Regions from separate parts of the Homo sapiens genome. Here all the other regions are reported to be linked to region 5. The links are microRNA targets in miRTarBase. Many come from high-throughput screens and were not tested one by one. Region 5 holds a microRNA gene; each other region holds the end of a gene's coding sequence.
Evidence for each region. Region 5 holds the annotated microRNA hsa-miR-155-5p (UUAAUGCUAAUCGUGAUAGGGGUU, at 2,429-2,452, opposite strand). A microRNA usually pairs through its seed, bases 2 to 8, with sites in the 3' UTR of a target mRNA and lowers its output. Matches are read on the target gene's strand: a 7mer-m8 pairs with bases 2 to 8, a 7mer-A1 pairs with bases 2 to 7 and ends in A, and an 8mer does both.

Region 1 (4,069 bases), not on the chromosome of region 5:
TCCCAGAAATCACCCCTCATTATACATCAGAGAATACATACTGGGGAAAAACCCTATGAATGTAGAGAGTGTGGGAAGGCCTTTTCCCAGAAGTCACAGCTGATTATACACCACAGAGCTCATACTGGAGAGAAGCCGTATGAGTGTACCGAATGTGGGAAAGCCTTCTGTGAGAAGTCCCACCTCATTATACATAAAAGAATTCACACTGGTGAGAAACCCTACAAATGTGCTCAATGTGAGGAAGCCTTCAGCAGGAAGACAGAACTCATTACACATCAGTTAGTTCATACTGGGGAAAAACCTTATGAATGTACTGAATGTGGAAAGACATTCTCCCGCAAGTCACAGCTCATCATACATCAGAGAACACATACTGGAGAAAAACCCTATAAATGTAGTGAATGTGGCAAAGCCTTCTGCCAGAAGTCACATCTCATTGGACATCAGAGAATTCACACAGGAGAAAAACCTTATATATGTACTGAATGTGGGAAAGCCTTCTCTCAGAAGTCCCACCTTCCGGGACACCAGCGAATTCATACAGGAGAGAAACCTTACATATGTGCTGAATGTGGAAAGGCCTTTTCTCAGAAGTCAGACCTTGTTTTACATCAGAGGATTCATACTGGGGAAAGACCCTATCAATGTGCTATATGTGGGAAGGCCTTCATCCAGAAGTCACAACTAACTGTACACCAGAGAATTCACACAGTGGTAAAATCATAATGAACTGGCCACAGAAAAGCCTTAGTATTAGCTCAAGCCTTAATAATTACTAGAAACCCAATTAATTTGATAAGCTTGGGGACAACATCCCAATAGATAAAAATTTTTAAGGGAATTTGTTTCTAGTTTGGTGATGCCTAACTTTTCCAGCAAAGATGATGGAAAATAGTTATATAAATGAAGAACATTTTTAATATGGCATGTAAAGCTTTTAAAGTTATGAACTCAGTGATCAGCACAGCAAGTTAAGCATACAGAATATTGTCAAGTTGCATATTCCTTATACTACAAAATGATAATCAGCCATTGTGAAACTGCTAATATTAGCTTGTCATAATTATGGCCATAAACTAATTTTTCTATAAAAGACGTGGAAGAAAGCTTAAGTAAACAATAAAATAAAACCTATACACTATTTTAAGAAGGGGCTTGAGCATGACCCCTAAAGCTACATGTAAAGTTCTTGTACAAAAAATGGAATGATAGGTTGATCAGATTCAGTAAAGTTGATCTGTATGCATTTTCCCATCTCAAGCATATAAGTTGACCTGCATCTCTGGAAGGACCTTGAGATTGATGCATTTTGAGCAGGTCTCCCTTTTACTCTTCCCAACTGGGAACTTGGAGCTGAAAAACATTGGCACTGAGGCCAGATGGCCTTGGGTTTAATCCTGGCTCAGTGCCTCACAGATTGTGTGACTTTAGGCAAACATACTTCTCCTAGCTGAGTATTTTTTATCAGTAAGTACAAATACAATGCAGAGCTCATTTTCAGTTAATATTAGTACTTTTTAAATCTTTACTCTCTATCTTGAAGCATTAGATGTTAAGACTAATGTGTAAAAACCACGTCTGAGCTTGCTTTTCCCTCTGGACACTCTGCTTTTGATTGCCTATCCCTATAAGTGGCTCATTTTACTGTCTTCTGATCCTGGTGGCCTTATTTTTGCTATGTTAAGGTTGTGTTTTTTAATACTTGGATTTATTTTCATATACTTACATAAACCGTGGTGATTGCACATAAAGACCCTGCCTAATGTCTCTTCACTTCTTTGTGATCCTTTCCCTGAAGCCCCAACTGTTTGCCCTGAAAACTTACAGGGGAAAACTCTTGGTGTGAGAAGTAATGCCTGTATAGCCTTGAGAACTGGAGGCCTCTAAGATAACACCTACTATCTGTCATTCCATCCATTCCCCCATAAGCATTTTTAGATGAGCACCCTTGCTGGAAGTGACCTGCAGGAGAGCATACTTGGCAAGGATGAGAATACCTGTGTGATAAACACAGCATCTGCACATATTTCCTGCTTGATTTCCTATCCACTTGATCCCCTTCCTGCTTGGCTAAACTGTCTGTTGTGAAAACATGGGGCTCCTCTAGTTGAGAACAACTGTAGAGTAGAGGGCACACTGGACAGGGATGTGGGAACTGAGAATTAAAGATGCCATTCACTGGACAGGGATGTGGGAACTCAATGTTAAAGATATCACTCCCCCCACATCCCAGGTGATTTATATATTGTTGGGGTGGGAAAAGAGAAATCCAAAAGAGCAAACCCATTCATAAAATGGATCTGCTAATTTTATTGTTGAATAACAGAAATAAAAATACTATGTAGCATTTGGGTAGCTAGCACATGGCTATAAAACTAGTGGATTTTTAGCTCTATTTATATGGAACTGAAGCTACAGTTGTGTGGAACTAAGCTTCCCCTCTGTTGGTAAATGGCAGATACCTAGTTTTCATCAATAGTTACATTGAGCTTACTCTGATGTCTTGTTTTGCATAATTCTTTTATCAGGCTTACTCTGATGGTCTGTTCTTTATATATTTTTTAATCTGTGCATCCTATGGTTGCCCTGACAGTGTATCTAATACGTGTGATTAGTCATATTCTTCACTCCTCAACAAAATTACATCAGTTTTTCACAGTAGTCAATGAACCTTATATCAACACCTCAACAACCTTTTTTATAAAAATCTTATAATTTGGTTCTAAAATGATATACAGAAATGCCCCAAGGCAAGAGTAGCTAAGACACTTTTGAAGAACAAATTTGGATAACTTATTAGACTTCTTATAAAACAGTGGTAATTAAGGCAATGTGGTGTTACACGAGTAATCATGTAGATCAATGGTAAAAGAGAATCTGAAAACTGATAATTACCTGTAGACACTTGAATTATGACAAAGTTGGCATTCTAGAACAATGGGAGGAAACTCACCTTTTCAGTAATGCCTCTGGCTCAGTTATCCAAATGGGTAAAACAAAGAAAAAACAAATTTACTGCATACCATTCACAAAATTTACTCTGCCTAAACCTATAATAGAGGACAATGTATAGCAGTAAGTATAGATCAGGCAAAAAGAAAGCCTGAAAATACCTAAGCAACAGTCTCAATAGGTTAGAATAAAAAAACGCTGTGATCTAACTCCAAAAAAATAAAAAGGACATGATAAAAATAAAAGAAGATGAAGAAATAGGAAAACACACAAAATAGGAACAACAAAACAAGAAAATTGTGGCTCATGTCCGTAATCCCCATACTTTAAGAGGACAAGGTGGGAGGACACCTTGACCCCAGGAGCTCAAGGCTGCAGTGATTGCACCACTGCACTCCAGCCTGGGTGACAGAATGAGACCCTGTCTCAAAAAAATGTATTGTAGATTGAAAAAATAATAAACCTTTAAGTAAACTGGGAATAAAGGGCAGCCTCCTCAAATAGTTAAAGGGCATAGATAAAAAACCTACAGTAAACATCATATTTAATGGCTGGAAAAAGGCAAGAATATTTACTTGACTCTTTCTAGTTAACATTACACTGGTGAATTTAGCCAGTGCAATAAGAAAAGCAAAGTAGGGAGTGGGCTTGCAACCTGGAAAGGAAGAGATAAAAGTGTTGTTATTTGTAGACAACATATCCTTCTATGTAGAAGATCTCAAAACTGCACAAAATATTTACTAGACCTAATAAACAGGTTTTGCAAAATATCTAAATAATTTGGAGAGATTAATTAAAACTCAGATATTCTGATTCTAGAGTCTACACACTTAACAATTATGTTATGCTGCCTCTCCTGCCTCCCTTTCCCTTCTGTAATTAACACAGTTAATCTTCCACACCGTTTTCTGAATTGGTTCATGATACATGATGCTTGCATGCAGATGCTCCTATTATTTAGCCAAACTTCAATATTGAAAAAAAAAAACTCCATAAAAACACTTAATGTCACCATTTAATAAAAAATTTAATCTTAATCCTTATGTTTTAGTGTTCAAAAATGACTTATACATCCTGACAGTGAGATAGTTTATTGGGAATACAGACCTATGAT
Region 2 (4,069 bases), not on the chromosome of region 5:
ATTTGTTTTGGGGGCTGGCCACAGGAACTGGTATCCGATCAGAGAGTGAGACAGAGTCCGAGGCCTCAGAAATTACTATTCCTCCCAGCACCCCGGCAGTTCCACAGGCTCCCGTCCAGGGGGAGGACTACGGCAAAGGTGTCATCTTCTACCTCAGGGACAAAGTGGTCGTGGGGATTGTGCTATGGAACATCTTTAACCGAATGCCAATAGCAAGGAAGGTAGGTGCCTGTCATAACTCTTAGAGGAAGATGGGAAGTACGGCTTAGAAACATTCCTGTAACTTCATCGGGTGCCCTGAGATGCATTGTCCCCCGGCCAGGTCAAATTGTGCCTGAGCAGAACAAAGGTATAGCCTTGGCTCAGGAACATTCTTTTTCACTTGGGACTTGGCTGGGTGACCTGGGAGTTGGCAGGCTGCTTGTTTGGGGTTAGTAGAGAACTGTTCCCACAACTCCCTCCCAGTGTGATATGGGGACTGCCCCAGGTAGCCCCATTGTGTGGGCATGGCCTGAACGCAATGGAGTAAGTTAGGGACCTATTGTTACTCTCTCTCCCTCAGATCATTAAGGACGGTGAGCAGCATGAAGATCTCAATGAAGTAGCCAAACTATTCAACATTCATGAAGACTGAAGCCCCACAGTGGAATTGGCAAACCCACTGCAGCCCCTGAGAGGAGGTCGAATGGGTAAAGGAGCATTTTTTTATTCAGCAGACTTTCTCTGTGTATGAGTGTGAATGATCAAGTCCTTTGTGAATATTTTCAACTATGTAGGTAAATTCTTAATGTTCACATAGTGAAATAAATTCTGATTCTTCTAAATTAAATTCTGTTCTCTTGTCAAGGGGGCAGGTGGGTGAAGGTGGAAAGCCACGCATATTAGAAAGCAAGCAAATTGCAGCACCGACCAAGCACAGGATTTTTCTCAGCCATGTATTCATGCCCTACTCCAGACGCAAAACTCCTTTCATTTCCGAACTTCCCTCACCCCTCCAGACCTCTTTGCACACACCTGCTGTGGCCTCGGCCCACAACACTTGACTCCCCTCCTCTCCTCTCAGGAAGTTCACTATCTCTGAAGACTTTCCCAGCCTTCCAAGCCTCATCCTTGTGTATGTGTCTCCCTGCTAGCCCATGACTTCCTGGAAGCAGAAGCCCTGATGTTAAGGCCTTGCTCATGGTTTTATCTCCAGAGCTTAGCACAGGGTCTGCTTCATAGTAAGTGCTTCATAGATCATTGTCGAATGAGTGAACAAATAAATGTATGGAATAGACTTTGTTTACCTGGAACAACTCCTGTCCCAGAACTGGATTGGGTCCTGCAGGGGACAGAAAGGGCACTTACTACAAATCTGAGTTCAGAGACCTGGTGCTTCACAGTTAAACCTGGAGACGGACTCATGGAAGGACCATCATCTCTTGACTCTTCTGCCTGCTGTCCTCATGCCAGACATCTGTCCTCTCTTAAGCTCCTTTTCTCTGAAATACGCTTATGGGCATACCTCACTTTACAGATTATTTCCTGGGAATACGATTCAAAGTTTCACAAGTCAACTCATTGTTTGGCATTTTAGATTGCTTAACTTTTAAAAATCAAATCTTATTATTATTATTTTGAGATGGAGTTTTGCTCTTGTTGCCCAGGCTGGAGTGCAATGGTGCGACCTAGGCTCATCACAACCTCTACCTCCCGGATTCAAGTGATTCTGCTGCCTCAGCCTCCCAAATAGCTGGGATTACAGGCATGCGCCACCACGCCTGGCTAATTTTGTATTTTTAGTAGAGATGGGGTTTCTCCATGATGGTCAGGCTGGTCTCAAACTCCCTATCTCAGGTTATCTGCCCGCCTCGGCCTCCCAAAGTGCTGGGGTTACAGGTGTGAGTCACCGCGCCCGGCCTAAAAACATCAAATCTTATTTAAGAGGAATTTGTTACTACTTTCAAGAGTCCTGTTGTTAAACTCCATGTATATAAAGAGAAAATTATTACCAGTCTGGATTTTTTTTAAATATTGGGTTTGATTAAGGGCAGTTTCAGCTTCAACCAAATCCCTTCTGAACACTGGGAGAACAGGCCAAATCTCCACCGTAAGAATTTGCAGTACAGGTATACCGAACAATACTATATAGATACAGGTTTACTCAAATGTGATCATATCCAAATGATATATCCAAATCTATATGTAGAAAACTCATCTAGGGTTGCGCACAGTGGCTCACGCCTGTAATCCCAGCACTTGGGGAGGCCAAGGCAGGTAGATCACCTGAGGTCAGGAGTTCGAGACCATCCTGGCCAACATGGTAAAACCCCATCTCTACTAAAAATACAAAAATTCGCCAGGCATGGTGGCATGCACCTGTAGTCCCAGCTACTCAGGAGGCTGAGACAGGAGAATTGCTTGAACCTGGGAGGCGGAGGTTACAGTGAGCCAAGATCACACCACTGCACTCCAGCCTGGGCAACACAGCAATATTCCATCTCAAAAAAAAAAAAAAAAGGAAAACTCATCTAGTATCCTGTGACATCGAAATTATTATACAGCAGTAATTGCTGCTTACAGAGATGGGGGTAAGACTAAGATCCTAGTGTTCCACAAATCATTAAGAAAAGATCAAATTGTGATTTGTCTTGCTTTAGTGTTGTATACAGTTTTGTCAAATTCTTTGACAGTAGTTATCCTTGTATAGTATGTCATTGTAGTTCAGTGGATTGAAATTAAATGATCTATTCATCTAATCAGTGTTCATTGGGTGCCTCCTGTGAGCCAGGTAGATGTCAGAATAGAAACATAGATAAAACATAGCCACTGCTTTTAAGGACCTCCTGGTGTCCGTGAGGAATGCAGACATGTGGATGCAGAACTCCAATACAATGAGCTACGTCCACAGAAGGACACAAAAAGTACTGTGGCCATGCCAAGAATGGAGAGATCAGCCACAGCAGCCATCCTGAGTCAACCACTGCTATTAGACCACTTCCTAAAGCCACCACTTGGTCCATGTCCCCTCCCTGTTTAAAAATGTACAGTGATTCCCTGTCACCAACCACATCAAGTTCAAAGTCTCCTGTAGTACTAAGCCCACTCTGTTTGGCTGACTTTCCGCCTGACTTTTAATATGGACATACACACACACACACACACACACACACACCTGGTTTATTGCCACCTTTAAACTTGTGTTCATGCTCTTCACATCCGGAACGCCATCCCTCCTCCCTTTATCTATCCAAATCCTACTCATCTTTCAAGGCCTACATCAAGTCCTGCCTTGGTGGCATGGTACCAGTTGGACTAGTGCCCATGCATGATTTCTCTCTGAACTCCAGTTGCACTTAGCACCTTTGAGTGTAATTGTTCTTTAAGTCATTCTAAAGGAATTGTCACCTGTCCCAGAGCAGAGCCCATGTTTTCTTTTCAGGATGGGGACCATATTGCTGCACCCTGGTGAAGTGCTGAGCAAGTCCTTGGTTGATTGGCTGGATGATGCTAGATAACAGGGCTGACTGTAAAAATGCACCTCTGTCTTGTAACCTCTGATCTCTGTAATTCAGGTTGTTTATGGGAGGATGTTCAGATCATCACCACTTCACTCAGCTGTCACAACTTGCCACTTACCCAGGATGCATTTAATCTGCCCAAGCCCCTGAGGATCCTGGGGTCCAAATTCTTTCTTTCTTTTCTTTTTTTTTTTCTTTTTGAGATGGAGTCTCGCTCTGTTGCCCAGGCTGGAGTGCAGTGGGTGATCTCAGCTCACTGCAACCTCCACCTCCTGGGTTCAAGCGATTCTCCTGCCTCAGCCTCCCGGGTAGCTGGGATTACAAGCACACGCCACCACACCCGGCTAATTTTTGTATTTTTAGTAGAGATGGGGTTTCGCCACGTTGGCCAGGCTGGTCTCGAACTCCTGACCTCAGGTGATCTGTCTTGCCTCGGCCTCCCAAAGTGCTGAGATTACAGGCATGAGCCACTGGCCTCTAGGGTCTGATTTCTGACTCCACAGACAAGCAGTGCCAGTCGAGGTTTGGCCCTCAATAGCTGGTCTGTGATAAGCTGGGCCACACCACAG
Region 3 (4,069 bases), not on the chromosome of region 5:
AGAGTTTCTGAGAAAAACAATGGTGTTTAAGTTTTCCTGCTTTGGTGATACTGAGTTTTTATTGTAATTTTTTAGATGTAAAAATAGTATTGTGAGGCCAGGCGCGGTGGCTCATGCCTATAATCCCAGCACTTTGAGAGGCCTAGGCAGGCGGATCACTTGAGGTACGGAGTTTGAGACCAGCCTGGCCAACATGGAGAAACCCCGTGTCTACAAAAAATATAAAAATTAGCCGAGCGTGGTGGTGGGCACACCTGCAATCCCAGCTACTCGGGAGGCTGAGGCACAAGAATCGCTTGACCCCGGGAGGCAGAGGTTGCACTGAGCCGAGATCGTGCCACTGTACTCCTGCCTGGGTGACAGAGCGAGAATCAGTTTCAAAAAAAAAAAAAAAAAAAGTATTGTGTTTTACTAGGAGAAAATGCGTAATATAAATCTGAGATGTAATGATACATCTCAGATTTGCTTCAAAATAAGCTGGAAGCAAGTAGTTTAGAGATGAAACTAGTTTTGCCACATGTTGTTAACTTTTGAAGTTAGTGTAATGATATACTACTGTTCATTATGTTATTCTCTTGCATACATTTGAAAATTTCCATAATGAAGTTTTTCTTTTAATTCCATTTTAGTGGTAAAAGTTTTTTAAAAACTCACTACTACAGAAAAAGAAAACACACATAACCTTAAAGCCTGGTGCACACCCAATCAGATAGTTCCCTCAAAATTCTAATTAAAGTGCATGCAAGAGGAAACTAGTAACTTATCTACTCAAACTCACTTTCCACTCAAGAAAAATGTGGATATCTGAAGTTAAGAAATAGTCTGAAAAGTGTGATTCTTAAAGTATTCTTTATTAAGATCATTAAAAGTTGTAGAAACAACTTTATATTATAAAGGCACAGGGAGACAGTTCAATAAAATATTCAAATTAACAGTAACTTACAGTACAAAAGACAATTTTAATGCACATACAAACCCCAAATGTCTGATTCAAAAATATTTTACTGCGTCTATTAATGGGCAATGATTAAAAATATAAATTGCTGCCATATAATAAATATCTGATAGTGAACATCTTGATAGCAAAGTGAACAAAATATTTATTGCTTTTCACTTACATATTTTTCCCTGTAATTTTAAATTCCTAATTCTTTTACTATCTTCTCAACTTTTCCCAAAGATAAAATAAATTTCACATAATTTCATGGAGGGGAAATGGTAGTTGTAAAAAACTACCTCAAGTAGCAATCACCGCTGGCAGTGTTTTCTCACTTTCTGTTCTGCAATTGCAATCACACTTCCAAAAAGAAAAGCAAATGTTTGCTAAACCATAGACAGACAACCTCTTTGTGACTGGTATTATAAGGTTTATAATGAAAACTTATCAAATATAAAAGGTGCTCCCTCTTGAAAATGTGTATTTTATTTGAAGTTTTGAGTAAGAGGTGAGTGTTTGGCAATTTTCAACACTCCCCTCAAAAATCTCCCAAAGTTGCAAAAAAGTCAGTTTAGTAAAATTCCAAGCACTTAAATGCTTCATTGAGGGCCAGTTGATATACGCAATGCACTAATGTGTAAAAATTAACCGAATGCAACTATTTTATAATGGAGAGCTCTTACCTTTTCCTTCCAGTTTTTAAACTGGCATAAACTTTATTGACTTCATCCTCCTATTTTTATAGCAACCTAGTTTTAGATGGTACAAGTTGAATTTCTATCACAAGACAATAAAATAACATGAAAGCATTATCCTAGTTAATGCTATTTCAACTTAAGAAATATCTACATTGAAGTATTTGATAATAATTGTAAAGTTACTTAACCGTATGTCATGTTCAGACAGTATGTAGCAGCTAGTAACGTGCCTGGCACAGAGTTGATGCTTAATAAATAGTTGCTGAATAAATGAAAAAGAAAAACCTGCCTTTGGTTGTGCATACTTTAATCACTTTCTGATTTAGAAAAAGATCAGTCTAGAGCTCACTACTGCACACTACATCAAACTTTGCTGTAAACAAAAGTAACAACTTCAAACAGAAAAATATTACCTGTTAGTGATAGTCAACTTATATAAAGAGCCCACACATTTCTATGCAAATAATTAAATTTGATGTTCTGATGTTTAACCCTTAGGTAAAGAAGACCAAAGTGTGCTGACTGGCTAATTTGTATGCTTTATAGTAATAATGATTAGTTCCTCAATAAATGAAAAGTTATGATGCCCGATTAAATTCAAACAATGGCTACCATGTTAATTTTGCAAAACTACCCATGAATAAAAGGTAGGATAACTTTAAATTACTTGAAAGCAGTAGTTTAACTTTCAACAGAAAAAATAATCAGGAAGATCTGAATTTAATAATGACAGAGCTAAAATACTGGAAGTAGGGTGGTAAGAATAAGTAGCTGACCAATTCTATTTTAAATTCTAAACATGAGATTAGGTGTAATATTTCTTTGGCATATGCATTACTATCTTGGACTAGTTAACACTTTTTAGATACTGGGTTGTATTTTTTTTCTGAATCAAAATTAACATCAATATATAGATTCTAGTATATTCTTCTTAAAGCCTTTAGAAAAGATAAAATGACATTTTGCAACATATGCCAAACTTCATGTTTAGTGTACACTTCTAATTATTGGCATAGAGGGATATAACTGTTAAATAACCTGAAATGACACCATGCAATGGTGAAACTACAGAAGTTGGTGAAAAGAAGTATTTACATAATGTAATATTTAGCTTTCTTTAAAAAAAAAAAAAAAAAACACAGTAAACCTGGGAATCCTGCCCTAACAGTAAATATGTACCAAATAGCACTGAATGACAACTATTAAAAATTTAAATGAACACCTACAGTAACCTGAATTTTCAAAATTTAATTAAAAAAAAAAAGGGGGAAAAAACCCTACACATCAGAAGGAAAAAGCGGCCTATAAAACAGACCAATCTGACTTGACATTCAAAGTAAATGCAAGAGATTCACAAAATCATGATAGTAAATGCAAACTAAGTACCAAGTACCCTTTGATACACAAGCCAATGTACTATCAGACTCATTTCCAATAGCTTAACAATATTCATTAATCCACTCAAGCATTCCGGGGTAGTGGGGAGCAGCTGATGACAGCTCAAGCCTCCAAAGTATAAGAACATACTTATTTGCAGAAGCATCATGTGATTTTTGAAGTAATGTCTTATTTTGATGGATGTTAACATTAAGATCTATCAGTGCAAGTTTATCATCCTCTGAATGTAACACTTCCAAATTTCATTTTTTCAGATCGTTTTTTGGTGGTTTAGTTTTAGCCAGTGCTGTTTAAATGGAGAAAAAAAGAAAAGTTCACCATAGACTACCTCACGTTGTTACTTAATTGTGCTAGGTATTCACGCAGTTCTTTTGCAGCCTGGAATCTGCCATAGCGCTTCTTTGGGTTGGCACACTCATCCAGCAAGGCCTCGAGCCGGCCATCTTTGGCAATTTCACTTGGTGGATCATGAAGGAGTCCTCCAGAAGTGCCACGCCAGGTGGCATGTCTGGATAAGAGGTTCTGACAAACAGCATAGTAATTGTGGTCCACAGTGGCACGAGCACAAAGAATTTCTTTTGAAAATGATAAGCAAGCCTCCTTATCACAGTCATCAAACTTGCTTTCATACCATACATCCCAATTTTCAGGTTTATCTGTGAAAGGAGGAAAAGCAGAAGTAGAAAAAAATTTTTTAAATAGTTTTCATTGCTTCCAAAAATAGAATATTTCACTAATTAATAGTATTTGTTCTACACTTTTAGGTAAAAGTATATTATAACCATAAACATTTAAATATATAAATTCATACAAACATTCACTGGGAGCCCACTAACGCTAGGCAGAAAGATTCAGAAAGGTCTCTACCACTTACAGGTTTAGTCTAGCGACTTTCCATCATACACAGAAAGTGCCATAAAGAAATATGACACAATGCTACAGGAATAGTGGGGAATTAAATTAGCACTTGTCCCTGGGGCTGTAGAAGGCTGCAAAAAGGAGAACATCTGATTTAGGTCTTAAAAGAAAACAAATC
Region 4 (4,069 bases), not on the chromosome of region 5:
GATATGGAAAGGATGCACATGAGCCAGCTATTCATTAAGTGGAGGAGGACAGCATTGCAGGCAGAGAAAAGGCAAAGGCTCAGAGGCAAGAAGGGGCTAGGTAGTACAGAAATTGTATTTCAAATAAAATCTCTCCTCTGGGGCACTGGAAAGTCACTGAAGGTGCTTTAACATGTACAAATGTAGTTAAGCTAATATTCAACTTTTATTCCAGGAGACCTACCATTACAGTAAAACAAACTAATATTTCTATCTTGTCTTTTAGGAGCTTTTCCACCTTCCAAGGGCCATAAGGAAGCTGTTTCCAGGGAGATGACCCTCAGCAACTTGTGGATATTTCTCATACAGTCTTTTGCATTTTTGTCAGGCTATATGTGGTACAACATCATTCAGTATTTTTACCATTGCCTGTTTTAGGAATTGACGTGGACTTGTCAAGGTCACCGTAGGAGTTCAGACTTTCTTTCATAAGTGTGCATTATTTTACATGTGCAAATCAGAATATATTTAAAAAAAAGCAAAAGAAATTCAATGGATGGATTAATATTTATCCCCCTTTGGGATATTTTAAAATCTACTAAAATGAGGATTAGTAATATAATGACCTGCTAATATATTTTAAGAACATGTTTTAAAAAGATACACTCTATCACATATTTAAGCAAACATCACATTTGGAGAAGAGGAAATCATAAAATCATCCTAGAAGACTATCTGAGAGAAATTCTGTTGCCACCAGTTATACTTGACAATTTAGTTGAAGCTCAGAAAGTTATATTCATCCCTCTTAGCTGTAGTCTATATTAGGGCAGTTCTCTAGAACGCCCACATTTCCACCAACTCAGTAAACTTGAGGGGAGCTGGTTGGCACCTCGTGAAGAACTCTTTCCCTGTCGTTTGCAGTAACAAACTCCAGTCTGTTGCAGTAACAAACTCCAGTCTGTTGCAGTAACAAACTCTAGAATATTGACATTCTCTGTGGGGGAAAAGCAGTGTCCACTGGACCCCTTCTGGTACTGGATGTGTTCTTTACAAAGGCTAGCTCAGTCCAACACTGTGTTTACATACACTCGTGCTTTTCCTTATCTGACTTCTCATTTTGTATCAGAGGCATATCATAAATTGATAATTTTGCAAAATGCACTTTTTTGAGATGCAGATATAGCAAAGGATTAGTAATATAGCCTGAAAACAAATGGGAGCATAGCAGTGTGTGAGGTTCTCGAGAACTGTCTTGTCTCTGTGTGTTTATTTGCCTGCCAGTGCTCTCCAGCGCCATCCTGCCCTGGACACCACCCTGACGTGATGCCTCTATTGCAGCTCAGAGGCTTTATTTTTTCCATTTTGACATTGGCACTAAATGCATTTGGGGATGGTTAAAACAAATTACTATAGAACATTTAAATGATCAGTTTAAGGGGAAATAGGCTAGTTTATAGAAAAATAAGAGCTAGTGGCTTATAATGGTGACAGGTTCTCATGTGGCACCCCTAGGACCTGTGCAGACAGTAGTCTGTTGAATCATTACATCAAGGAGCTGCCCCTGTCAGGGTGAGTGTAATTAGGAACGATACCAGCACATAAGGCTCCCCCCAATCTCTTCCAGTTGCTTTTTCTTTTTTCTTTTTTTTTTAGACAGGTCTTACTCTGTCACCCAGGCTGTAGTGCAGTGGCATAATCTCAGCTCACTGCAGTCTCTGCCTCCCGGGTTCGAGCGATTCTCCTGCCTCAGCCTCCCGAGTAGCTGGGACTACAGGCACCCACCATCATGCTTGGCTAATTTTTGTATTTTTAGTAGAGATGGGGTTTCACCATGTTGGCCAGGCTGGCCTCGAACTCCTGACCTCAGGTGATCTGCCCACCTCGGCTTCCTAAAGTGCTGGGATTGCAGGCGTGAGCCACCACGCCCGGCCTCCAGTTGCTTTTGAAGAGGGTAAAGTCAAGTTTCTATTTCTAGAAAACATTTTTTAGAAATTTGTTGCGATGTTTGTACAATTTACCTCATAAGAGAACCACACCCTTCTCCAAAAGTGCTGGTACTGCATCAGTGAGATGAGTAGGGTTTTTGTTTGGGATTGTAAGACTATTAAGATCCTAGTAAGTCAGTGGTAGTTTACTGTGATGTGAGCATTGTAGATTCCCCCGTTGTCACTAATCACACAACAATTTTGAGAAGTAGGCTATAAAACAAAAAAAGGTTGCTGTTTTCTATTTTTAAATAAACCAAAAAAAAACAGAAAAGATGTGAATTTTCCCCAGTTATGTGGGAAAGGTAAAGCAACACCAAATAAAAGCCCACAGCAGCTTCATCTTTACGATAACTCAGTGCATATGTGAAAGAGAATGATGCATTAACTGAAATACCTCATTGAATATTATACTACTACTGGTAAAATGCAGAAGACAGTGTTAATGTGTTTGGTTTGGGGACTGGTTGTTATAAAATGCAATTTTTTTTTAAATCTAAGCATTTCATTATGTGTTCTACAGTGTCGGTGAATAAATGAAACCAATCTCAATTTAGAGGTATGGATGATGACAGAAAGCCCAATAGAAGCTTAATGATGCTTCTGTTTGAGGCCCAGCAAGCACCACTAAATTACTGGATGAAATGAAATTGTTCACTTGAGGGATTAGTCAACCATCTGGGGGAGAAGTTGCTCACTGTCAAATACAGCATGCACGGTCCTAGCTGATAGACCTTTTCCTCATTGCTACAGCAAGCCACAGGGTAGAGTGACCAGTTCTCCTATCCAAAAATAAATGCGAACATGCATACATAAATGTGGCTGAGGGCCACTTTTGCCATCACTGTGCTCCAAAGGAACATGATATTGTTAAATATACTGTACACATTAAACTATTCTATAAGATGCTTTACTTTTCAAGTACGGTGTCATTTTCACAGTCTCCAGGGTGACAAATGCCAATAGATATGTGAGTTAATTTTTTTAAATATCTCCGTGAGTTGTAAATAGATGTGTATTTGATCTGCCCTATCCTTCTTTGATTCTTTAACATGTTCTCTCTCTTCTGTTTGCAAAATATGTTTGAAAGCATTGGTAGTGCTTTCCTTATCAGTAACTGGAGTTCTCCTGCTTGCACTAGAGAAGGTAAAGAGAGAATCAGTATTCTTATATGGCAATCTGGGGAAGCAGCAATATGCCACTGTACAAAACTGAAGAAAAGTTCCTAATTTGTACTTTGTGAAGGGAGATGAAAGGACGTTTAAAGTATATATATTTTGTCAAGAGGAAAGAAGATAAAACTATGCCAGTTTTATATCAATAGCTTGTAGAAGCTCAGCTCTTCTTGGTCTTGGCTAGACTGCCTAGATTCCCACAGCAGACAAGGTTGAGAATCCATTGCTGGAATCTTGGTATTGATGAGTTACAGTGATGGAACATGTGCTTGGCCACAGGCAGGTCCAGTCACTGCAAAAGTGACCAAGCCAGCAGGTCACCCTTAACTTCAGAAACAATTATTGGTGGTGAACTGTACTTAAATTGCAGAGAAACCTGTAAGTAATGGAAGGTAAAGAAAAATTACAGAATGGAAAATAATATTTTGGGCAAGCAAACAAATTCACTGAGAATTCCAAAAGTATATTAAAAAAGAAGATAGCTATGAGTTCAGATCTATCTTATTGGTCTTTAATATTACAACCAATCCTTAACTTTCCACTATAAAGGAAGGATTACTAGATTGATTACTTTCTGGATAGATAATCTGGTAATAAATGATAGGTAAATCAAAAATTACTTTTATTTAGGAGTTTGAATTCTTACTCTCATCAGACATTTTTTTTCTAGGGACGCTTACTAATTAAATGATTTAAGTTGTTTCTTAGGGGTTTTTTGCCTATATATTTATGACTGTGTTAATGAGTAGTGAAATGATGCGGAAAGACAGCTATCAGGAAGAGGAAATACAGAAGCCTGAATAATCTATGGGTTAGAAAAGCATCCCTGAATAATCAAAAATTGGCAGTATTGGCATTGTTCTCAAGCCTTTTTATGAAAATGAAATCTGAAATCACCAAATGTAAACCTGGGAACATTATTCTAGT
Region 5 (4,069 bases):
CTCAGTCTTGCTCATGCTCCAAGAATTTTTGTAATGACTGGTCAGGAGGAATCCCTCTAAGATGAGGAGATAGGCAGTCAGAAGCCTAGGTGGGCTGGGCGTGAGAGAAAACCCAGGAACCCTGGTTCTTTGGGTCGTCACCACGGGATTGATTATAGTTAGTTTGGAGCTAGAGTGTCTTTGGGGAGATCTGCTATGGTAGATCATTTGATTTAAATGACTGAAATGTAAAAGTTTGAAAGTTTGTGTTTAACACTTAATGCATAATAGACATTGTGCTTTTCACATGCATGATTTCATTTAAGCCTACATCTTATGAAATATGAAATATATTCATCATTTTATTGATGAAGAAATTGAGGCTTAGAGGAAGATTAAGTAACTTTCCAAAGCTTCATGTGAGTGTACCCAAATGCTCTTCAAATAAGGCATTTCCCAGCACAGCTTTTCTTTAAGTGCCTTTGTAATGTTTATAGCTTTTTATTGTAACAGCAGGAAGGTTATACTACAATAGTTTATTCCAGTCCTAATGTTCTATGACTTTGTGTCTTTAGGCAGCAAGCAGGATTTTGAAGAACTGGGACTCAAAGCAAGGAGTCCTCTTGTAGATATACAGTGGCAGATAAAATGAATTGAACAGACACTTTTTTTTTTTTTTGAGATGGAGTCTCACTCTGTCACCCAGGCTGGAGGGCAGTGGCACGATCTTCGTTCACTGTGAACTCCACCTCCTGGGTTCAAGTGATTCTTCTGCCCCAGCCTCCTGAGTATCTGGGATTACAGGCACGCACCACCATGCCTAGCTAATTTTTGTATTTTTAGTAGAGACGAGGTTTCACTATGTTGGCCAGGGTAGTGTAGAACTCCTGACCTCAAGTGAACCACCCGCCTTGGCCTCCCAAAGTGTTGGAATTATAGGCGTGAGCCACTGTGCCTGGCCTGAAGAAACACTCTTGAATGTGTTCTACCTACATGGGAGCTCCGTGGAGCCACAAGCTCATTCCAGGTGTTAGGAGAAGAAATTTGTGTTGGCAGCACATACAACTTGAACAGAAAGTGAGGAGAAGAAATTTGTCTTGGCAGCACATACAACTTGAACAGAAAGTGGGGCAAAGCCAAATGGGTATTCTTACATGAGAATACTGTGTCCTAGGAGTCAGGAATGTTCCCTTTAGTGTCCTCATAATTTTCTTCCATTGTCTTTTTTTGGCAGATAGCTTCTGGAATTATAATTTGTACTTTGCAAAAGAAAATGGGCCATAAAAATTATTTTAAATCAACTAAAGACTCATGAGATTTATTTGGTTACAGTGAATAACCTGGACAAAATGTTGAGAAGAGTTGTTAAAACAAGTTTACATTAAATATACTAACAATTACGTTTGGTTACATATTTGTAAGTGATGGTTATTTAGAAAAACTGCATAGAAATCCAAACCTTAAATATTCTGCAAATCAAATCATTAGCTTTTCTCTTCTCTAATAAAGTAGGGTGACTAGTTCTTGGATTAATCTAACTATAACATTAATGTAGCACTTGATTATCTTATGGAATAATTCTCTATCTCATCTAAGCCTCACAACAACCTTGTAAAGTATTATCCCCATATGGAGGAAGAAACAGGCTTAGAAGTGGAAAGGTAGATTCTCTGCTCGCACAACCGTATTATGTGGCTAAGCTATTGAACTTGAACCTAGATTTGGGACTTCATTTCAAATATGAAATTTTTTGATTAAATCTTTTTATCTTGTATGGAAAAAATATCTCATTAGCTGTCAGATGTTATTTACCCTGCTAACTGTTAAAAATATTTCATTAAAAAAATTCAGCTTCATAGCCTTTCAGTTTCCCTTTAAGAGTCAAATAAAAGTATTAATTTTAAACTGAAGTTGCCTGAACAGAAAATCGTTACCTGGGGGAAAGTACCAGTTTCTAAATCTTTTAAAAAACGTTGCCAGACAATCCATGATATAACTGGAGGTTAGTAGTCCTTCTAATTTTTAACTACAAAAATATTATAGAAATTTGTGTTTAGCCCACATTTCTAACAGTTGAATCAAAGGTGTTTATGAACATTATAATGAACAAGCCAAAACCTGCAATTAAGAATGACATGAATATATTTTCTGTTAATGATAAAAACAAACATGGGCTTGACATTTAAATGAAAATGTTTGCATTTAGGATACTACTGATAAATCTTTTAAATAACCTTACTTTCAAAACTTAGTTTAAGGTTGAACATCCCAGTGACCAGATTATGATTAACAGATTGAAAAATGATAAAGCCTGAAGTCTAAGTTTATCCAGCAGGGTGACTCATGCTTCTTTGTCATCCTCCCACGGCAGCAATTTGTTCCATGTGAATGCTAGTAACAGGCATCATACACTGTTAATGCTAATATGTAGGAGTCAGTTGGAGGCAAAAACCCCTATCACGATTAGCATTAACAGCATACAGCCTACAGCAAGCCTTCAGCACTCAGAGGATGAGGCATAAAGAATTTAAACCACAGATTTCCCCTTCCTGGTTTGTGCCACCTGCAAGAGAGAAAGAAATGTTTGTGTATGCACATGCGGTTATAAAGCTGGAGTGACAGCATATAGTAAATCTGAAAGGAAAATAGTCCATTTTCTGTTGAAAGGAAGGAGCTCATTAAATCCTTGGAAGTAATTTTTTGAAAGTGGTAGAGAAATTGGCAATTAAAAGATGACATTGTTACCTTTAGGCATATTTGAAGACTTTGAAAATTATGTTTTAAATTCTATTCTCTAGTTTTGAATCGGGTACACATATGTATCATCTTCTTTAAATAAAAAACAAAAACCGCTCTTCGGAGTTTTCAAATGCCAAAATGCAAAGAGGAAAGCTTGCATTCTGACACAGTACAGTTTTTTTTTTTTCTGATTTGTACTTCATCTAGGAGCTAGACAATTAAAGGCCCAAATGTTCAAAATAGTCCTTTATGATTTATGAAAATTAAAACCCAATTAACCTGTTTTATAAGGGTAGGGTTCAGGCTGAATTTTTCTTTCTGTAATACATAGTTGAAGTTTTACCTTTATTCTTTCAGGAAATGTGATACAAGCAATGGAGGTTTGCCTACAAACGAATCTATCTGAAAATGTCCCCGTCTACTATTTAGAGATTCCTTTGGGGAAAGCACTACCCAGTGGCTTTGGTTTTGACTACATAAAGGAAGTATGACTTAAAGAGTCCTCTGTGTTTCAAACTACTTGTCTTAGGCAGAGGGTTGATTAAAAAAAAGAACAAGATGAATTTGCTACTTCCTTTTAGAGTCTGATTTTACTCTCTCAGATAAAGTGACATTTCTCCCACAGGTTTCTGATTTCAGTGTTACTATAACAGAACCTAGAAGTTAGAGTATCATTCAAGTATGTGGTCTCCTGCAGTACAAGAGGGGAATCACCTTTTCTTTTATTTAATAATGAAACCAGCTAGATATAAAAATGTGACTAAGTTCAAAAGAAACGTATGAAGTAAAAAATTCCCCAGTGAATATATTTTGACAGGGCAGAATATCGTGGTTTGGAAATTTCCAAACCAAGGAAATATATTATTCTTACTGATAGTATTTTTTTTTAAACTTTACTGTTTTCTGAGATGAATTAGTTGATGATGAAAAAATTTGGGTTAAATGATGTCACTTCAGGAATTCAATTCATTTTACAGAATTTCAGTCAATAAAGATTGTAAAAACAAGGACTTTTTTTCCCCCTTACAGGGTCCTGGACACAGTAAATGCTCAATAAATACATATTAATAATGTAGTGTTAGTGCCACCCCAGCCAATATAACTCGCCCTTTTCTTAAAAGATGTGTTTAATTTGTATTGAAGGTAAATTGCTGGCATACTATTCTACCCATAAATTTTATTCCTGTTCTTTAAAGATAACATATGAGCACAGGTATTAAAATAAATATATTTAGTATACTAATTAGCTTTTTCCCTCTTTTTAAATATACATACGAATTGCCTGATTAGAGCACTCAGAAAAGTGACAGTGTTTTTGATAATGTGTTATATATATTAAAAATTCTAATAG
Region 6 (4,069 bases), not on the chromosome of region 5:
AAGGGGGAACCTGGATCTGGGTTTTCCCTCAGGAAAACAGCAAAGACCGACTTGGAGGCTGAAGCAGCATTAGGGAACGGGCCGGGGAGAAATTACTTCCTGAAAACTCTCTCAGCAAGGAAGGACCCCTCTCTACACCACTTAACCTGCCTGCATCAAGAGAACAGCAGCCTCCGGGAGCCAGGAACCCCGCTCCTCTCTCTCTTACCCGGCTCTCCATACGGAATGGTCTCGGCCCAGATGCTCGGCTCCTCTTCCTGGATGTCCAGAACCCTGTCAATAGACTTCTGGGCCTGGGACAGGGCCTGCTTAGCGAAGCTGGAGAGCTGGGAGGCGTTGAACCAACTCATCGCCCCTCCTCAGCCGGCAGTGGCGGCGGCAGCACCAAGCGGGAAGGCCTCAGGCCTGGGGAAGGGTGCAGAGGAACGGCTTCGCTCCCCTTTTCCACTCGGCTGGTTCTGTCAGCGTGTGGCCATTACCCCGACAGCCTCCCGCGAGCCCGGGATGTTACCCTCGGCCGTTCCCGCACAGCTGAGACGAAGGGGGCCCATGTGCGCATGCGCTTGCTTCTTCCACGTACACAGCAACCAAATCTACGAGCCCAGAGTTCGGTCGACAGACGGAAGAACAGAAGAACGTTGACGTCACATCCGGGAGCGCAGGGTTGCCGTTAGTTACCGAGGAACGCGGAAGGGTTTCTATTGATGTCGATTTCGTGCTTACAGCAGTTCTTAGCGAAGGGGAAGCTATGGCTACCGATAGAGGTCGATTTCCCCGGAAGGAATATTCAAGTTTTCGTGTGTGTGCTTTCCAGGAAAATAGTTCACGTGCTAAAAGCTTGCACCTTGCCAGCAATAATTGCAAAGGGAAATTGGGCCTCACACTTCTCTTAGCCCTTTGTCTCAAATATTTAATAAGCTCTGTATTAACTTGGTATTGTAAGGAGAAACACTTGTTTGGGCTTGCCTAAAAGACAGGATCACGTATGAACACTGTGTCCAACTCGTGGAACACATGGTGCATAAAGCACAACCTCTCTCTCAAAATAGTAGTAAACTCATTGCTGCAGTCAAAATACCCCTAATACTGTGGTCTGTCGGTGTCCCCTGCACAAATTCCTATGTTGAAACCTAATCTCCAATGGGACAGTATTAAGGGGAGCCTTTAGGAGATGATTAGATGATGATGGAGCCCTCATAAATGGGGTTAGTGCCCTTATAAGAGAGGCCCAAGGGAGCTCACGGCAAGAAGGCACCAACTCTAAGCCAGAATAGCAGCCCTCACCAGACACCAAATCTGCCGGCTCCTTATCTTGGACTTCTCAGCCTCTAGAACTGTTAAGAAACAAATTGCTACTGCTTATAAGCCACCCAGTTTATGGCAATTTGTTACAGCAGTCCAAATGGACTAAGACACCTAGGAAGCACTAAAGCTGTTATCCTAACAATGTGCACTGTGCATATTACTTAAAACATAACCTTTTCTGTGTGCATTCTCTTCGAACATTTGGACATGGGAAAATACCTTAAATTGGTGGCCTTCCTAATCCAGTCTGCAGCTATATTTGGTTTGGGCCCAAGTTAAAGACAAAATCCTAACTAAAAGCCAGATTTCATTCAAAAATCTAGATTTCCAGCTGCTTTTGAAAAATATGAATACCAAGCATGGGAATAGTCAGCCAGAGTGGTCACCAAATAATTTTCACTCACTCCAGTTTGCCACAGACCCCTATCACTCATCCTATTACACCCTCCCTGCTGTGATTATTTACCTTATATGCCTGCCTCCCATATTTGAATATTTTACCCCACTGCAAGGAACTCTGCAAAAAAGAATTATTTTTCTTTTAAAAAATCAGATTGAACCCCTTAAGAAGTTATAATCATCTTCCAATAATTTTATCTAACTACAGTAAAAACTTGCATGTTAAAACTAACAATTTAGTCATGTACACAAGTAGTACCAAGTAACTCAAGTACTTTCAAACAGCTAAGTAGTCTGCAGAGGAGATTTGGGGCAGATTCGGGTTGAAATTAGCTGTACAGTTACAGTTCCAAGACTTCTAATTGTACAGCTTTGGTGAAATGACCTACCTAAACCATCTAAAACTATTTATTCAGCTCTCAGATAGAGTCACCTTCTTACAATGCTACTTTGAGAATTATTATAGCACCTATATGGTGCTAAATTTTAGTTCCTTCACTTTCAAAATTGTAAGCTACACCTGTAACTTTTCAGGTAGAGCTTATAAATTTATTCCGTATGGTTTTATAATAAAACTTATTTGTCAATATGTAGCTAGAAAGATTACTGAAAACTTAACTCAGTGACACATAAGTAACCAAAAAACATTTGAACAGAAAACTGCCATATCTAAGTCAAAAACAAAGAATGAGAACACATACATGTTCTCATATTAAAATACTAGCACCTACTTTTTTAGTATTTGTACTTAATTTTGTTTGAAGTTTTATTCACTTAAAAGAAACAAAAACATGGTCAGGCATGGTGGCTCATGCCTGTAATCCCAGCACTTTGGGAAGCCGAGGGGGGCGGGGGGGGGTGGATCACCTGAGGTCAGGAGTTTGAGACCAGCCTGGCCAACGTGGTGAAACCCCGTCCCTACTAAAAATACAAAAAATTAGCCGTGCATGGTGGCAGGCGCCTGTAATCCCAGTTACTCCGGAGGCTGAGGCAGGAGAATTGCCTGAACCGGGGAGGCAGAGGTTGCAGTGAGCTGAGGTTGCATCATCGCACTCCAGCCTGGGCAACAAGAGCGAAACTCTGTCGCAAAAAAAAAAAAAAAAAAAATTATATTGATACAGAAAGTTAAATTAAACCAGTAAATTTTTACTATAGAAATTGCTGTAGCAAAAGTATTAAGTGCAATAAAAATTTGATATAACTCTGCTACACATTTAAAAATTATTCCTATATTACCATGGAACTACTGATTACCCTTAATGTACTTTTAAAAACTTCAGTGAAAGAAGTACACAATATATGATTTTATTAATAAATAGTGCAAAAGCATCAGTGATAACTGTTTGAACATTAAATTTTTTAAACAGCCATGTCTTGGCATTAGTTAATATTGTGCATATTGGCCTCTATGGCACTACAAGTAAACAGATGAAAATATTGCCCATTTTCATGCACAGGTATTCAGCTATAACACCATTTACAAATCATTATGAACAAGATAAATTCTGCAATAATATTCATTTGGATGGCCACAATTAAATGAGTGTTATATCAAGAAATAGCCTATGTTCAATATACTCCAGATGTCAGATTGTAAAATGTAATGTTATTTAAAACTTAATTCTTTATTTTCCTTAAAGGGACACCTTTTGTGTATTTGGGTACTCAAATGAAAACTTAGGAATGCATTCTTTGACCATAATAACAAAATTCACACAAAAGAGGTTGTATGCTTCCTCCTCTAAAAGAAGCAATACATTTGCTCATAATCTCTCTCTCCAGGTATCATTTCTCATATTATTAATGAAAATGCTTACAAGCACCAACACCAAAATTCTGTCTTCAAGGGAAGGTTACAAAGTTAAAAAAGAGTGGTTCATTATATAAAAAAAGACAAATCGTGGCAACACTATTGCTAAAAATGACATCGATTCAACTTCTTAGCATCCACAAAGTATATTATTTCCATGAGTTTTCTATTATGTGGAGATTTTCCTTAAGAAGTAAAATGAAGTTTGAATAGTACAGTCTGTGGGGTGGTGACATCAGCAACCGCCAGTTCTTGTCCATCAACAAGCCCCAATTCTAAAACAGAAAAAATATTATTAATACAAGCAAAAAAAACTCAACAGAAAGGATAATACACATGTAAACAAACTACAGAGTATTACGGTCTAGAAAAACATCAAAATCCAATCCTCTTTAATCAAAGTAATATTTGATTTCTTAGAGATTTTAAAATATTCTACTAAAAGAGCAATTAATTCTATTAATATGTCTAAAGTTGTAAGTAATTATTACCTGACCATATACAAGGCATTAAGAGGAAATCTAGAACAAGCACTGATTACTTTCACCAAAAAGA
Region 7 (4,069 bases), not on the chromosome of region 5:
AAGAATGGCTACTACACAGGCAGAACAGCCCTGAGAGCTGCTGGTTGCCCATTTTTATGGTTATTTCTTGATGATGTGCTAAACAATGGGTGGATTATTCATGTTTCCCCTTTTTAGACCATATAGAGTAACTTCCCAATGTTGCCATGGCATTTGTAAACTGTTATGGCGCTGGTGGGAGTGTAGCAGTGAGGATGTCACTCTCATCACCATCTTGGTTTTGGTGGGTCTTAGCTGGCTTCTTTACTGCAACCTGTTTTATCAGCAAGGTCTTTATGACCTGTATCTTGTGCTGCCCTATCTCATCCTGTGACTTAGAATGCCTTAAGCCTTAACCACATGGGAATGCAGCCCAGTAGCTTTCAGCCTTATTTTACCCAGCTCCCATTTAAGATGGAGTTGCTCTGGTTCAAACCCCTCTGACAGAGTTACCTCAGTTAGCAGAGGTGGCTTTAACAAAATGGGGCAGGAAAAATAGGTGGGAAGAAGCCTTCCTGGCTATGGGAACCAGTATGAGTCCAGACACAGAGGTGAAGAACTTATATTTAATTTGCTGGGCTCTGCTGACAGTAGGCAGTGGAAGGAAAAGCTGAGCTGCTGGAACATTAATCTGAAAAACACTGAATTGGCCTCCCTTAGGATGTGCAGGGCTATGCCAGCAACTGCAGCAGGCATGGTTATGACATCTTTGCCAGGCTTCCCTGCAGCTTAGGATGGCTCCATGACATGATGTGACAAAAGAGATGTTAAGCTCAAGGCTGCTGAGGTTTCTAAGAAAGTTTTGTTCCAGATAGTCTCCCATCAAGATTAGCTAGTTTTTGCCCTGTTTTTCTTGCCTTCAATGTTGATGTGATACTGGAATATCTTGTGACTATGGAAACAAATGCCCAAATGCTGAGGACAGTGGCATGGAAAAACAGAGCTGAGTCCTGGATGGCATCACGGGACACTAGAACCCAGGCCAGCAGCTGCCTTCATATCCCCTTCTCAAGTGAGAGAAAAATAATCTTTAAGTCACAGACCTATTTTTTGCTACTTGCAGCCAAATATAGTCTTATTTAATATAGGACCTGCCCTACCCTTACTAGGTATTGCCTGCTTTCCCATAAACAAACCAGCATGCAGAGAAAGTTCTAATTTCTTGATTTCTCTAAAGATGTGTTTTTTTGAAGTACAATTATAGGGCTTTTCCCCTTCATACTACCATGACTATGTGAGTTCCTAGCGATTTATGAAGTCTGTGGACTCACTCTCCAGAAAATTCCCAGGCAAAGCAATTCTGCTCATTTGAGTGGGTCTCACAGTACTGCTGTCGGTCTGGAGTATGGGAAAGCAGAGACGGCAGACTTAAACCAACAGCAGTGCAGATTACGGGTCCTATGGTCCTACTTAGAAGGGGCTTCAAGAGGTCCAAGGAAGCTAGGCTATCTCTGCTTTCTGTGTCCACCTGTAAAAATCTACTCTGTGTACAAAACAACTACAATGTGGCACTCGATCAATGGAGCCCCTACATCCATCCATCCATGTTTAAAAAGAGGAGGATATTCTCCCCTTCTTTGAGTCTGTTGGCAATGCCTATCTCAGTCACAAATATTCAGTTCTAGTATATATCATTACCTGAGTTCCGCTTCCTGTCAGCAACAGAATAATTCAGATAGGCTGGGCTCGATGGCTCACGCCTGTAATCCCAGCATGTTGGGAGGCTGAGGCGGGCGGATCACCTGAGGTCCGGAGTTCGAGACCAGCCTGACTAACGTGGAGAAACCCCCATCTCTACTAAAAATACAAAATTAGCCAGACATGGTGGCGCATGCCTGTAATCCCAGCTACTCTGGAGGCTGAGGCAGGAGAATCACTTGAATCTGGGAGGCGGAGGTTGCGATGAGCCGAGATCGTGCCATTGTACTTCAGCCTGGGCAACAAGAGCAAAACTCCGTCTCAAAAAAAAAAAAACGGCCAGGTGCAGTGGCTCACACCTGTAATCCTAGCACTTTGGGAGGCTGAGGCGGGTGGATCACAAGGTCAGGAGTTCCAGACCAGCCTGACCAACATGGTGAAACCCCATCTCCACTAAAAATACAACAATTAGCCAGGCGTGGTGGCGGGCACCTGAAATCCCAGCTACTCAGGAGGGTGAGGCAGGAGAATCACTTGAACTCAGGAGGCAGAGGTTGCAGTGAGCCGAGATTGTGCCACTGCACTCCAGCCTGGGAGACAGAGCAAGACTCCGTCTCAAAGGAAAAAAAAAAAGAATAATTCAGATAAAGTTTCAGATAAATCAGTACTTATCCACACACTTGTCTCTCTAGTTCTGAAACTGAGGTAACATGTAGATTCAGCTAATGTGTCTCCAAACTAGGGAAGTGAAGCATTGTGACGTTAAGGGATATTCCTAAATGGCAAGCTTTGATGAATCTACCAAACACCATCTTAACTAGGGGGACACCCAATTTACTAGAGCAAATCCACATTGTCTTTTGTTTGTTTGAGACAGGGTCTCACTCTGTCACTTAGGCTGGAGTGCAGTGGTGCCATCATAGCTCACTGCAGTCTTGAATTCCTAGGCTCAAACAATCCTCCCACCTCAGCCTCCAGAATAGTTAGGACTACTGGCATGGGCCACCATGTCCAGCTTTTAAAAATGTTTCAGAGACAGAGTCTTGCTATGTTGCTCAGGCTGGTCTTGAACTCCTCAAGTGATCCTCCCGCCTTGGTCTCCCAAAACATTGGGATTACAGATGTGAGCCACTGCACCCACTTGTATTGTTTTTTCCCCCTACTTAATGTTAGTGTATATACATCCTATTGGCAAATTTTGTCAACGTCAATCCCACAACACATAACTGTCTCTTGGGAAGAAGCTATTAAATTCTTGTTTGCATTTGCAAAAGGGTTAGTAATGAACCTTGAACTGCCTGCCAGCAGACTCCAGAACCTAGGAGAGTGAACAAGGCCAGTACACTGAACCCTGTTGTATTTGCACTTTTTAAGCAAATGATTCCTAACAGATCAGTTGTGTCTTCTTTTTTGAGGCAGTCTTGTTCTGTCGCCCAGGCTGGAGTGCAATGGTGCAATCTCGGCTAACCGCAACCTCGACCTCCTAGGTTCAAGCGATTCTCCTGCCTCAGCCTCCTGAGTAGCTGGGACTACAGGTGTGTGCCACCATGCTTGGCTAATTTTTGTATTTTTAGTAGAGACGGGGTTTCACCATGTTGGCCAGGCTGGTCTCAAACTCCTGACCTCAAGTGATCTGCCCACCTCAGCCTCCCAAAGTGCTGGGATTATAGGGATGAGCCACTGTGCCTGGCCCAGTTGTATCTTCTTAACCTACTTTCTCAACACATTTTCTGGTCTTTTCAGTCATAACTAGACATAAAACACGTCAACTCTCTTTCCCTCCCCTTCACCCCCAGGTCAGCTTCTGAACTGGCTATTTCATCTACTGCTGATGTTCTTTGTCAATTTTTGAACGTTAACACAAAACCTCAGATGCTAAAATAATCTAATAGTCAATAAAAGTGTAAAAGACTTCTGATAAAATTATGTTTTAATTGCCTATGGCATATATTACATAATGGCTCAAAATTAATAGTCTGGCTGAAATTAAGAAAAACAGCTGATGATGACTTAGTAAATCCTTAATTTTAAGTAAGCTTTTGGCCAAATGTCAGGGGTAGAATTGACTCAAAATTAACAGCCTTCACCATCTTTTATTCATTCTGCTGTGATACAACTAAAATGGCCAGTAAATTCTCCCCTGGGTCTCAGGTAACAGTTTTCCAAAAGTGAAGTATCACTTTCTCTGCACAGTGGTGAAAGCCGGCATTTGGATGGGCTGGATCGGGTGGACAGGCTGAAACACTGGCTTCTTTCTCACTTCAGAGTGTGTTTTCACTGCAGGGAGCAGCTGATTCCTTTTGATGATCTGTAAGGCCAGCTGAGTATTACCTATAAAAACACTTCCCGTTAAAAAACAAAGCACAGAACAATACTGCCACACACAAAGCAAGACATGAAAATCCTGCTGGGGAGGTAAAAGATGATCTAGAAGAGCTGTCATCTGCAGCCT

Region 1: miRTarBase lists ZNF300 as a target of hsa-miR-155-5p. Seed matches in the 3' UTR shown: 7mer-m8 at 1,545-1,551.
Region 2: miRTarBase lists AIFM1 as a target of hsa-miR-155-5p. The part of its 3' UTR that is shown has no 7-base or 8-base seed match.
Region 3: the mRNA of DIPK2A is a reported target of hsa-miR-155-5p. Seed matches in the 3' UTR shown: 8mer at 1,756-1,763 and 7mer-A1 at 960-966.
Region 4: miRTarBase lists LPGAT1 as a target of hsa-miR-155-5p. Seed matches in the 3' UTR shown: 7mer-A1 at 2,349-2,355.
Region 6: miRTarBase lists UBA3 as a target of hsa-miR-155-5p. The part of its 3' UTR that is shown has no 7-base or 8-base seed match.
Region 7: miRTarBase lists CNOT10 as a target of hsa-miR-155-5p. The part of its 3' UTR that is shown has no 7-base or 8-base seed match.

The regions. Positions count from the first base shown.
Region 1 is chr5:150,892,084-150,896,152 of GRCh38, reverse strand. It overlaps ZNF300 (zinc finger protein 300), which reads left to right. Exons shown (of 6, transcript NM_052860.4): 6 at 1-1,754. The coding sequence ends at 729. It also overlaps a transcript of IRGM not described here. Among named protein-coding and RNA genes, the nearest start is that of ZNF300, 11 kb to the left of the region's middle.
Region 2 is chrX:130,126,122-130,130,190 of GRCh38, reverse strand. AIFM1 (apoptosis inducing factor mitochondria associated 1) reads left to right here. Exons shown (of 16, transcript NM_004208.4): 15 at 25-221; 16 at 563-829. The coding sequence ends at 634. It also overlaps a transcript of RAB33A not described here. Among named protein-coding and RNA genes, the nearest start is that of ELF4, 18 kb to the right of the region's middle.
Region 3 is chr3:143,989,130-143,993,198 of GRCh38, reverse strand. It overlaps DIPK2A (divergent protein kinase domain 2A), which reads right to left. Exons shown (of 3, transcript NM_173552.5): 3 at 831-3,689. The coding sequence ends at 3,358. Among named protein-coding and RNA genes, the nearest start is that of DIPK2A, 19 kb to the right of the region's middle.
Region 4 is chr1:211,746,247-211,750,315 of GRCh38, reverse strand. LPGAT1 (lysophosphatidylglycerol acyltransferase 1) reads left to right here. Exons shown (of 8, transcript NM_014873.3): 8 at 266-4,069. The coding sequence ends at 417. Among named protein-coding and RNA genes, the nearest start is that of NEK2-DT, 73 kb to the right of the region's middle.
Region 5 is chr21:25,572,366-25,576,434 of GRCh38, reverse strand. It overlaps MIR155 (microRNA 155), which reads right to left and starts at 2,455; the gene lies at 2,391-2,455. MIR155HG (MIR155 host gene) reads right to left here. Exons shown (of 3, transcript NR_001458.3): 3 at 1,267-2,542. RefSeq lists enhancers at 189-238, 631-780 and a silencer at 2,332-2,511.
Region 6 is chr3:69,051,737-69,055,805 of GRCh38, forward strand. It overlaps UBA3 (ubiquitin like modifier activating enzyme 3), which reads right to left. Exons shown (of 18, transcript NM_003968.4): 18 at 2,994-3,789. The coding sequence ends at 3,701. It overlaps TMF1 (TATA element modulatory factor 1), which reads right to left and starts at 597. Exons shown (of 17, transcript NM_007114.3): 1 at 209-597. The coding sequence starts at 350. RefSeq lists an enhancer at 189-658.
Region 7 is chr3:32,773,336-32,777,404 of GRCh38, reverse strand. It overlaps CNOT10 (CCR4-NOT transcription complex subunit 10), which reads right to left. Exons shown (of 19, transcript NM_015442.3): 19 at 3,530-3,948. The coding sequence ends at 3,794. Among named protein-coding and RNA genes, the nearest start is that of CNOT10-AS1, 38 kb to the right of the region's middle. RefSeq lists a silencer at 2,814-3,108.